Homo sapiens: one gene and its partner. The protein of the gene in region 1 interacts with the protein of each later gene in a biochemical or structural test. Each region holds a gene or a part of one and is shown on either strand. Other genes may lie near its edges. The genes, in order: MPDZ and OR2AG1.

Region 1 (7,306 bases):
ATTGCAAATCGCTGACTTATTATAGATGATAGGGCTGCTGGATACTCCCTACATTTTTTCAGTAGTTATTTTTGTTTTATTCAATGAAATTAAATTTATAAAATAAATGCTTATTAATTTTCATGTGTACTTTATGTACTTCTCTATAACTATTTTATATTTCACAACAAAAAAATGCAAACAGAAATACCAGTGCTCTACAGCATACTTATTTAAAATGTCCCATTTTCAAAAGACGATCATGTGCAATTTGTGTTCAAAGAAAAAAAAATAGGCTTTACTAACCAAAGTTCATTAATATTTTTATGTATATTGTTGAGTTTCCATGGAGTTTCAATTTGAGCCTATTTTCCTTTAAATATAATGAAACCTCAAATTGGACAAAAATATTTAATGACCTGTTCCTGTAGGGAGTTTTGAAAAGAAATGATCAACTGTTAACCATTTGGCATTACCTCAGGCCATAAACTAATAAGCCAGCTGCTGACCACTATTAATGAATGTTTAGGGGAAAAGAGGGTGGTTAAAATTTGCAAGCTTACCTTTGCAAACACTGTTTTAACATAAATGGGTAAGTCTCCATGAGGGCTGCCATATCCTCCAACTATACTGAAGCCTAAGCCATCTGGTCCTCGCTCTAGTGTAATAGACTTACATTGAGGAGGTCTACGGTGAAGGAAAGGAAAAAGAGGTTTTAAATTAAAAAAAAAAAACTATACATATATGTTATGAATTATCTGACATCCACCTAGAGCTAGCATAATTCTCTTTGTTACTGACAAGGAGTATATTACGGGTATTTTTGAGATGCTTAAATTGTCAGTGCATGCTGTGCTTGGTATTTTAAATTTACATAATCTAATGAAATCCTACTTAACACCCTAATTCTATTACTCATTTACAGTTCCCTTAAACTAACATATTCATGGCATGTTCTCATTGTACAGAGAAGCTCATTCTTTTTCCAGTTTATTTAAAGTGAGAGGGCTAAAGTTCAGGGGACTATATTAGAATAAGTCATAAACATCAGTACGCCCAAGCTCAGAGAGAAAAATCAATTATAAGCAATGGAAAAGCTGCATCAAATTATTTAAAATTTCTAATGCGCCTCTCTCTTCTCCTCTGTTTTCCAATGCTTTTGTATCCAAGTATTGTTACTTAATACTGTGAATTTTTTCAGTCCAAATGATAATATATTAGATGAATAGGCAGTGCGGGAAATTTTAAAATGATAGATTTGACTTGCTCCATATTACATGAAGTGGTAACATCAAGACTAAAATGTCCTCCGCCCCAAAATCAGAGCTGAAACCATGGGAAGGGTAGTAGCACGCATATCTATCTAGCTAGTTATCTATCTCTACTTATCTTTGATCAGCTAAATCCATGCCACAATTATTTAAGTTTAGAAGCACCTGATATGTATAATTCACACTTCATATATCCTATCATTTTACCTGTACGTAATTCCTAGAAACATGGGACAGAGAACGCAACTGTCAGGAAGACTTGATTCATAAGTGAAAAATGATACACTAATCATCATGTATGAACTCACCCTAAATCATCCTGAAATATACTGCTTGACGTCAGCCCAGTGAAAGAAAGACTGGAACTTGCAGGCTCCTGCTGATGACCTGTGACCACACTCACGTCTCCTCCAGCAACCACCTGCGCACAGGAGGAGGATAAACAGAAAAAACACATGTTCCTGTGGCTAGGGAAAGTAATTTTTCTTCAGAAAGAGCACTTGGATTAAAATGTATATTTTATTGTTCATTTAAACATTTCTGTTAACATAAAATACAACCAAAGAGAATGAAATTTCACAAGGTCCAGAGGCTCTTAACTGTCCTGACAGTAAACATATTCTTCTAATTCTATTCTACAAAGTTCTTTGATGTTTTTAAAATGTGGTCTCATATGTAATTACTTTTTAAAGATCTTTAGAATATAAGCCACTTGCTAGCACCACTTAAAATTCCAGCAAATAATCATGTACTGCTAAGGCCTGGATTTTTTTCCCCTTAAAGTATAAAACAATCAATGCATCAGAGTAAAATGTTACAAAATATGTCTCATATGCACTTTATTGGAACTCTTAATTTAATCATTTATGTTCAAGAGAAATATTAAATAAAATAATAGCAGAAGATTTAATCATTTTTACTGCTTTAACATCAAAGCTCATGTGTCTTCAGGCTACCTATATTCTGAATTATGCTTGGGATAAAAATCTTACCTGCATTTCAATGGAGCCAGATGCATTTTTCAGTAGGTTAACTGCTTGGGTGTGAGTCATGCCCTCAGTGGATGTGCCACAGATGGTGACAATCCTATCCCCAACCTGCAAGGGAGAGAAAGAAACAGCCATCTGCTAAAGCAGCCATGGAGAGTGGGTCTTTGAGACCTAAGTATTCATTTCCTTCTCCACCTTCCACATGACATATATACTGCTACCAGCCACTGAAATATAACCAAGGAAACCACTAATTCCAAGAAGTCCAAAAAGCAGCAACCACAAAAAGAAGCAGTGCATAATGGTTGAGTTCCATATCCAGGGGAGAGGGAGGGAGAAGGAGAAAGTCACTCTTCCCTGCTCTTCATTTCTCTTGGGTGAGACATTACTTCCTATTAAAAGAAAAAAAAATTCACTATCATTTGGAAACTGAAATTTCTCTGGACATTACTATTATAATCATTAGATGTGACTCTAAGTCGGAGGTTGGCAAACTAAGGCCCAGAGGCCAAATTTGGCCCACTGCCTGTTTTGGTTAATAAAGTCTGGTTGGAAGACAGCCATGCTTATTTGGCTGCTTTCACAGCGCAGAGTTGAGTAGTTGCAACAGAGACTCACAGGTCCCACAAAGCCTAAAATATTCAGTATCTGTCCTTCCAGAAGTTTACTGACCCTGTGCTATGTATACAATCAGGTTTTAAGTGTCAGCCATAAATTTGGATATCAAACGAGGCTGAACCATTCCCAGCCTAAAGACTATTTAAACTAAAATGTGGTTATGTTCTGAGACCTATTTGAGGTATGAAACCATAGAGATTTTGCTTTAGAGAGACTGAGTTGCGTTAATGGAATATTCATGTAATTTTTAGAGCTGGGCAGTTGGCATAAATTCCATTGCAATGCTCCACAATTTGGATAATCCCTCAGCTTTGAGGCAAGTTGCATATAGTTTTATAACATTGTAAGTCATATTTATATTAAACTTCTGCAAAATTATCAGTGAATGCAAATAAGTAATACTTTTCAATTTAACAGAGTTAAATCGGCGTTTAAACCAATCAAATATATAAGATAAAAATTTCACTTCATACTGGTGTTCTGAAAATACTTTCTGTTCTCTTTTAGCTTGTTCCACAGAATTTCAACATATAAAAATATGTATTAGGAAACAACTATAAATCTTCCTATTTAACTGCAAATCTGCATTTTCTCCTTTCTTTTAATATTCTTTATCTTTTATTCCAAGCAAGCCTTGCTGTGGTTGGATTAGATGATTTAAAAGTAAATATAGATATTTAAAACTGCCTTGCAACAGGTAGCCAGGTTCAAAGGTTTATAAAAACACTTCTGCACATTTTGCTAGGGCTTCTAGGGTTGATAGTACGACTCACTCTGAGTTTTTGGGTCTGTGCTGCAACTCCAGTTGGGTGCATCATTGCAATAAATATAGGCACATCACCAAGTGGGCTGCCTACTCCTCCAGCGATGCTGATTCCCAGTGAGTCAGTAGGGCCCTGCCATGGAACAGATATAAAATTTTGGTCAAAGTGATATTTTTCATTGACCTTTTGTTTATTCTTTGGCATGATATCTATAGTCAACTCTGATTTTCTAAGTGTGAGGGGGAAAATGAAGAAGTGCAAGAAAACTGCATTACTTTACTTGACACAGGTGCTTAGCGTGGCTTAGGAAAATAAGCATCTGTTCAGGAAGTAAAATAAATCAAGACATGCTAAATGAAAATCATGTTGTGGAACTGATGAAAAGCAGGTAAACTCATGAAGTGAAAAGACCACACTTTTGGAATCAGAGTCCTGTGTTCAAAGCCACGAAGTCATACTTGCAAATGCTGGAACTTGGAATAAGTCCACTCCACTCAATAAATCATTAGATCTTCATTTACAAAATGGAGACAACAGTGCCTCTCACAGAGGGCTGCAGTGAATATTAAATGACATGATGATGACATGAAGTGTCTATAAGAGTGCTCAGAACAATAGTAAAAGCTCAATAAATCACAGCTGCTTTTACTTTGTCTCTTGTGCATGGCTGTCAAGGGAATCTGTTTCAGAACTAATAAGTATCTGTTGAAGAGAAAGGTTTACTTATAAGAAGTGAGAGGCATGGTATTATTTTGTGTGGGGTCAATTTTATGCTATTTTCAGCAAAACAGAGCATGCAAACAACGATTTTTCAAATGAGGTGCTGTGATCAGGAAATTCATTAAGGACTACATTATGTTATTTCACATGTAATATGTAAGAATACATACTTTTTGAGATGAATACTTTAAAACCGTAAGAAAGTTAACAAGAAAACACATATGAAGATGTCTCTTAAAACGCCAGGGTTTATATTGTTTTCTCTCCCCAAGTTACCTTTTTCATTTCGACTGTTCTTAATCCCTGTATTTCAGATGCCACTGTAAAGGCAAAAAAGATAAAATAGGGTTATTTTATGTTCATTCACTTTTTATGTTCGTTAAAATATCTAAAGCTGGATGGGACTAAATGATAACCTAGGTTTCTTTTTTTAAGGGGGTGCTCAAAGCTGCTAGTACACATGATTAGATCTGTCTTACACAGAACTATTTATTTTTCCAGTTGGAAAAACGTGTATACCATCCCATTCTTCCTTCTCATTTTAAGTGTTGATTATATAACTATGTAATCCACTTTGAATGAGTCAAGGGCAGAATGTGTTTTGCATAGAAAGGCACATGTGCACGGCTGAGAGGAATAAAGTCATGGATGCATTAAAAAAATTCACAAATTTAAGTGCCTAAATTTCTAGAATATTAGTCATACTGCAAACAGAGATTGCCATATTGTTAGTTTCTTCAATTTGAACAACTCTCAACCAATGCACCAAGCCAAAAATCCCTCTGCAGCATGATTTCACGTAATTAAAACACAGGAGGATCACATTAATTTTCTCAAATTTTTGCAATCTTCATGGAAAAAGAAGGCTTCACTTAATGGCATCTTCTGATTTACTGGTGTTACATTAAACACAGAAAAGGAATAAAATCAAAAACACCAATCTGCTTAGTAAGAAAAAAAAATTACAGAATCCTGATTATAATGTTTAGTGTATCTTGTAGGGTAAACATCAAATGGGAAAAGCTGCCATAGGCAGAACTTCATGTTGTTCAGACTTTTTGCTAACACGTGTTTTTGTACCTATATTTGGATATGGGATGATTTGGGGGAAAAGAAAGCTCAGAGGTAAACAAGACAAAAAAATCAGTGTTGACAGCCAAATTCAAACCATGTTTAAAATACTGAACCAATCTTACATGCATTCTTCTTTGAGCTACTTTCCAGTGACTCAGATGTACTGGATCCAGAGAGTGGAAAAGTGAAAGATGACAGGCTGCCTTCACTCACCTACAAATATACAACAATTATTTCAGAAGGTTTTGCAAGTAACATACTCCCTAAATACCACTTATTTCAGAATTTAATCTAGAGACAGATACCTGTTAAGCAACAGTGGCATTTGATAATTTGATGAGCAATTTAAACACAGTTCCTACTGATTTTTTTTCTTTTAAACAGAGAATGTGTCTAGTGACATAAATAAATTGAAGCTAAAAGGGTAGATGAAATTGATTCCAATCTACCTAAAATTTTAGTGGATAGTCATAATCTCATTCAAACTAATCTTCTTTAAATTTAAACTGATGTTGTAGGAAGACTAGGACTTAAACAAAAACTGTAGAATTAGGGCCAGCTAATAGGAAACTCATGGTAGTAATTTAGAAAGTTAGTATGGGGTCTTTAAGGACAGACTGATGAAAATGGGTTTCCATCATCAGTAGACAACACTGAGGAGAAGGTCAAGAGGTCTTGTCAAGAGTCTTGAAATATTTAACATCATATTTTTATACATGGTGCTGAGTATCTATAGTTCACTTATATGGGACTTTTCAGTTGAATATTGATTGATGTTGCTATAAAATATTTTTAAAATATGTTATCTTGGGGCCAGGTACGGTGGCTCATGCCTGTAATCCCAACACTTTGGGAGGCTGAGGCGGGTGGATCACGAGGTCAGGCGTTTGAGACCAGCCTGGCTGACATGGCGAAACCCCATCTCTAATAAAAATACAAAAATTAGCCAGGCATGGTGGTGCACGCCTGTAGTCCCAGCTACTCGGGAAGTAGAGACAGAAGAATCTACTTCGCCCGGGAGGCGAAGGTTGCAGTGAGCTGAGATTGTGCCACTGCACTCCAGCCTGGGTGACAGAGCGAGACTCTGTCTCAAAATAAATAAATAAATAAATAAAATAAATAAAATAATAAAAAATTTGTTATCTTGGTAGGCTTTACAATTAGGTAGTTACCTTTTGAGATTATGGAAAATGAATCATGTCAAAAAAGAATGCTTGAAATCAATTTCCTTAGAATGACTTACAAACTACTCAACAGCCACACCTTGTTTACCTGGCTATTCTGATTCCTTGTTCTTCTCTGTCTCAAACTCTGCACCTCAGTCACTATCCCACGCTGCCAGGGGACCAGACCTTGTACACAGACCCACAGTCAGGGCCATCTATGTGTCCTCTTGGCATGCCGATTGCATCGCCCTGATGAACTCCACAGCTACCCACCTGGCTGCTTTGAGATGGCCTCCTCTCTGAATGGAATGGACCAGCTTTGATTCTTCCAACTTCCAAGGTTACTGTGCCTAGGGAACACTGGGGGTGGGCATGGGGGGTGTTTTATGGAAATGTTTAAATAAAATGCTATAATCATCTTTAGGAATACATTTTACTCTTCAAGACTTTTTTGAAAGGCATCTTCCTTTTGGAATTTCTATAAGCAAGGATACCTCCAATCCCTTGTGGAAAATGGCTTTTTATAAAACATTCAAACTAATAAAAATAATCAGCAGCAGCAACACCAAGTGTTTACCTTATCACCTCATGATTTCTATGGAGACTACTTGTACCAAAAAGAAATGGAGAATTGAGCAATTATCTCATGAAACACACTAATTTTGATAGGACAAACAAGCTGAATAACTGAGGGTTTAAAAAACAAAGCGACTGTAATCCCACCA
Region 2 (4,376 bases), on another chromosome or scaffold:
ATACTCTTCATATGAAAAGACAAATTGTTTTCTTAAAATGTTAAATATTTTGCATTCTTACCAGCAACATATAAGTGTACTTAGCCCACTACATATTTTTTCATGTTAAATTTTACATATAAGTAGTCTTCACTAATTGATAAGGTATAAAATTTGCCTATTTTAATTTGCTTAAGTAACTTGTCCACAGTTTTCTTATTGATTTGTTGAAGTTTTTTTACAGGTTAGGAACACGGAGACTTTGTTATATTTGTGGTAATAACTTCTTTTCAATTTGTTATTTGGCTTCTAATATCTGCATGGCAGAGATTTTTAGAAAGAGAAATATTTAAAATATTTGTATAGTGAAGGATATCTTTTATTTTTTTTTCCAGTGATTTTTACTGTTAGGATATAATTTTCTATTCTCATTGACGTCTTTGCTGTGCATCATACAGTTCAATTTAGGTAACAATTTATATATTTTATGTGTTTTGTCACTCTATATGTTTAACTTTAACAATAAATGTCAAACTTATCTTTACATGTGAAAATGATGATATTTCAACTTTTGTCAAAGGTACCATTTTTCTAGCAATATTTTAAAGTAATCCTTTCATTTTCTATTATTTTACTACCTTCATCAGACATGTTCTAGTAAGCTATATTTTGGCTAACTCTTCAGTTCTAGCTTCTTTCTCCTCTTTACTCTTTTGGAAGACATTTGATTCTATCATTCACATCTTAATAGCTCACTTGTAATTTGATTGTGAATATATTTAACTGATAAATTAATTTGTAATTTGAGCATTTTTTACAATACTCAGCCTTGCCTTCCTGAACATGGTGCATGACTATACTTCTGGAACCTAGTCTCAGTCAGTTTTAAAATGAACATTCCACACCATCATTCTAAGCTGATGCCTTGCCTCACACTTCACTAGAACAGAAGCAGTTGGCTACAAAGCCCTCTTCAAATCCTCCACATATCTGTGCCTGCGTGTACACTTCCTGTTTTCCCTCATTATAACTGCTTGAACCCGGGAGGCAGAGACTGCAGTGAGCCGAGATTGCACCACTGCACTCCAGCCTGGGCAACAGAGTGAGATTCTGTCACAAAATAAATAAATAAATAAATAAATAAATAAATAAATAAATAAATAAAGTAAGAAGTCTTTGCATGACTCCAATCCCCCTCAGTAACTGTAGCATTATTTTCAGCTTCTCTTCACAGGAAAAAAAAAAAATACAAAGGGAACACTTATGCCCATTTTCTCCTCTGCTGATCTTCTATTCGCATCTTAACACACTTTCAATCAAGCTCTGGTCTCTTTCTATGGACCTGTTCTTTGTGAAAATTATCATTAATGTGCTAAATAAAATGTCTACCTCCATATTCTCCTTCATCAACCTTTCAGCAACATTGATATAATTGACCTCACCCTTCTGTTGGGAAATTTTTCTTCTTTTGGCTTCCAGACACCACACAACTCTGGCTTGCTTCTTTAATCCCTAACCTTTTTTGCCTTATTGGATTCGTTTTTCTTTCTGAATGTTTCCACATTCAGATGATACAAACATGGACTTCCCTGTCTTCTCAATCAAGAATCTCTTCCTGAGTAATTTCATCCACTTACATAGATTTAAGTTCTGTCCATATGCTTTTGAGTCCCAAAGACCTCACTACTTGTATAATCCACAGACTCAAAAAATTAGCCGGGTGTGATGGTGGATGCCTGTAATTCCAGCTACACAGGAGGCTGAGGCAGGAGAATCGCTTGAACCTGGGAGGAGGAGGTTGCAGTGAGGCAAGATCGCGCCATTGCACTCCAGCTTGGGCAACAAGAGCGAAACCCCATCTCAGAAAACAAACAAACAAACAAACAAAAAAACAAAAAACAACGAGATATCACGTCTTGCCTGTTAGTATTATTTTTGAAAACCAAAAAAGTCAAAGCAAAACAAGTGTTGGTAGGTATGGGGAGAAAATGGAACCTGTGTACACAATTCATGGGAATGTAAAATGGTACAGCCATTATGGAAAACAGTATGGAGGTCTAAAGATTCAAACTATTACTACTGTATGATCCAAGATTCCCACTTCTGACTATATATCCAAAGGTAATTAAATCGCTGTTTCCAAGACATATTTGCACTCCATGTTTATTGCAGCATGATTCACAATAGACAAAATATTGGAAACAACCTAAGAGTCTATCAACAGACCAATGGATAAAGAAAATGTGGTCTATTTATACAATAGAATATTATTTACCCTTAAAAGGGAAGGACACTCTGTCATTTGCAATGAAATAGACCAACCTGGAGGACATTATGCTATGTGGAATAAGCCCAACACAGAAATACAAATGCTGTCTAATTTTGCTTAATGCGGAAGCTAGAAAAGAGTCTAACTCAGTAATAGAGAGTACAGTGGTGTTTGCCAAGGGTTTGGGGTGACTGTGGGAGGAAATGAAAAATATTAGTCAACAGATACAAACTTTTATTTTTAAGATGAATAATTTCTGAGGTTCCAACATATAGCATGGTGACTGAAGTTAATAAAAATGTGTACTTGAAATTTGCTGCAGAAGTAGATGTCACGTGTTCTCACAACACACACGCACAGAGGGTAAGTATGTAAGGTGATTGATATGTTGCTCTGTTAATTAGCTTGCATGTGGTCATCATTTCACAGGGTATACGTATATCAAATCATCACACTGTATACCTTAAATACATTCTAGTCATATTTGTCAACCATATCTCAATAAAGTTGGAAAAAAAAGAAAACTATGGGCAAATTATACATAATAATAAACATAAAAAATCATTTGAAAACATTTCTAAAGCTGCTTTGTCTTCATTATAGGAATGTAAAATATTACCTCTGCTGGAATATGAACTACACCCAGGATTTGAATAGTACAAATTAGATGAGACGACTTGCAGTGTAGAGCCCTCTAGGCTTTCAGCCTAGAACAGGAAGGAACGCAGAGTAATGACAGCAAACAGTGAAGCTATAGGATAATAATTCCTCCTCAGTGACAAGAGGCCCCACCACTGCTTTGGACTCCAGGAAGCACTCAGACATTAACATCTGTGAAGTGTGCCCTGCATGCTAAGAAAAGGGTGAACTGACAGACCCTTCTGTCCATCAAGTCATCCACAGCCTAGTTATTTCTGTCTCTGCTGCTAATTGTGCCAAAAGTAACCATAAAATCTGGAGTCAACTGCTAGAAGTTTTGCAAGAACAAAGGCCAAGGAGATGCACTTGTGTCTTGGTGAGTAGCCAAAGTTAGCTGCAGGGAGCTGAAGCAAGGGACTGAAAAAATGAGAAGTCTTAGAAAATGTTCTCCAGTCCTTGAGGATCTGAAGGCCTATGTGTGACTGATATTTGGTGGAGAAGAACGGACCTAGCTCTTTCCCCACTCCAACCAACCAAAATCTTTGTTGAAAGGCATATTGTGTATTGTCACTAATTCTGGGAAGGCGGGGGCCATTGGTTTTCATGAAGTGTGACTATGAAACATGAAAATCACACAAGGCAATCTTGATCTGAGGAATGCTTCTAAGAGAAAATGAATACACCTGCCCTATAGGCCCGCTTCTCTACCAAGCACACGGAGATGTCCACTTATTCTTGCTGGCACCAAATGGTGATATTCAAAAGAGCTGGCATAATTTTTTAGAGTTGCTAAGTATATAAAGCACTAACTTTATCAATTTTGTTAATTATACTTCACTTCATCTCTGTCTTATCAATTAGCTAAATAAAAACAGCATCAATTCATGAATATCATGATAATAAAAAAATTCAGGTAAATATTCAAAAAAGTCAAGTGTTAGCTGTACATATTATTGTAACTATAAAGGAAGGGAAAATATATCTTTATTTTATGAAAGCCAGTAAAATAAATCAAACTTCTCTTAAAATATTTGGTAAGGAAAAACTAACAACGTGTTTCTTTTTAAAATAAACTTCTAAATTTTGGAACAATATTAGGCTTACAGAAAAATTGCAAAGATGCTAAAGAGAGTTTTTCACACACCCATCTCTCAGTTTGTTTCTTCTAATATATTCATCCTTCATTAGCATACATACTTGTCAAAATAAGAAACCAAAATTGATACATCACTGTTAAACTATTCAGATTTTGCCATTTTATTCAGATTTTATTATCTTTTCTGTTAGTATTACTTTATGTTCCAGGGTCCAATCCAATATACCGTACTCCATATAGGTATCTTGTCTCTTTGACAAGCTTTGATCTGATATTTCTCAGTCTTTACTTGTTCATAACTGTAAGGGTTTTTTAATGAAGGGAAATAGGGTTTACAGAGCTGCAGAACAATTGTTATTTTTAAAATGCTGTTTATCAAGAAGGATTTTTGTT

The links.
Region 2: the proteins of MPDZ (region 1) and OR2AG1 form a complex in vitro, tested with the Homo sapiens proteins (one study listed by IntAct).

What each region holds. Positions count from the first base shown.
Region 1 is NC_000009.12:13,108,394-13,115,699, forward strand, and holds part of MPDZ (multiple PDZ domain protein), read right to left. Parts: intron 6,942-7,306; coding exon 6,855-6,941; intron 5,629-6,854; coding exon 5,538-5,628; intron 4,662-5,537; coding exon 4,618-4,661; intron 3,754-4,617; coding exon 3,631-3,753; intron 2,348-3,630; coding exon 2,243-2,347; intron 1,672-2,242; coding exon 1,559-1,671; intron 667-1,558; coding exon 543-666; intron 1-542. UniProt on the Homo sapiens protein: Member of the NMDAR signaling complex that may play a role in control of AMPAR potentiation and synaptic plasticity in excitatory synapses. Promotes clustering of HT2RC at the cell surface.
Region 2 is NC_000011.10:6,787,811-6,792,186, forward strand, and holds the end of OR2AG1 (olfactory receptor 2AG1), read left to right. Parts: 3' UTR 1-3,748; downstream 3,749-4,376. UniProt on the Homo sapiens protein: Odorant receptor.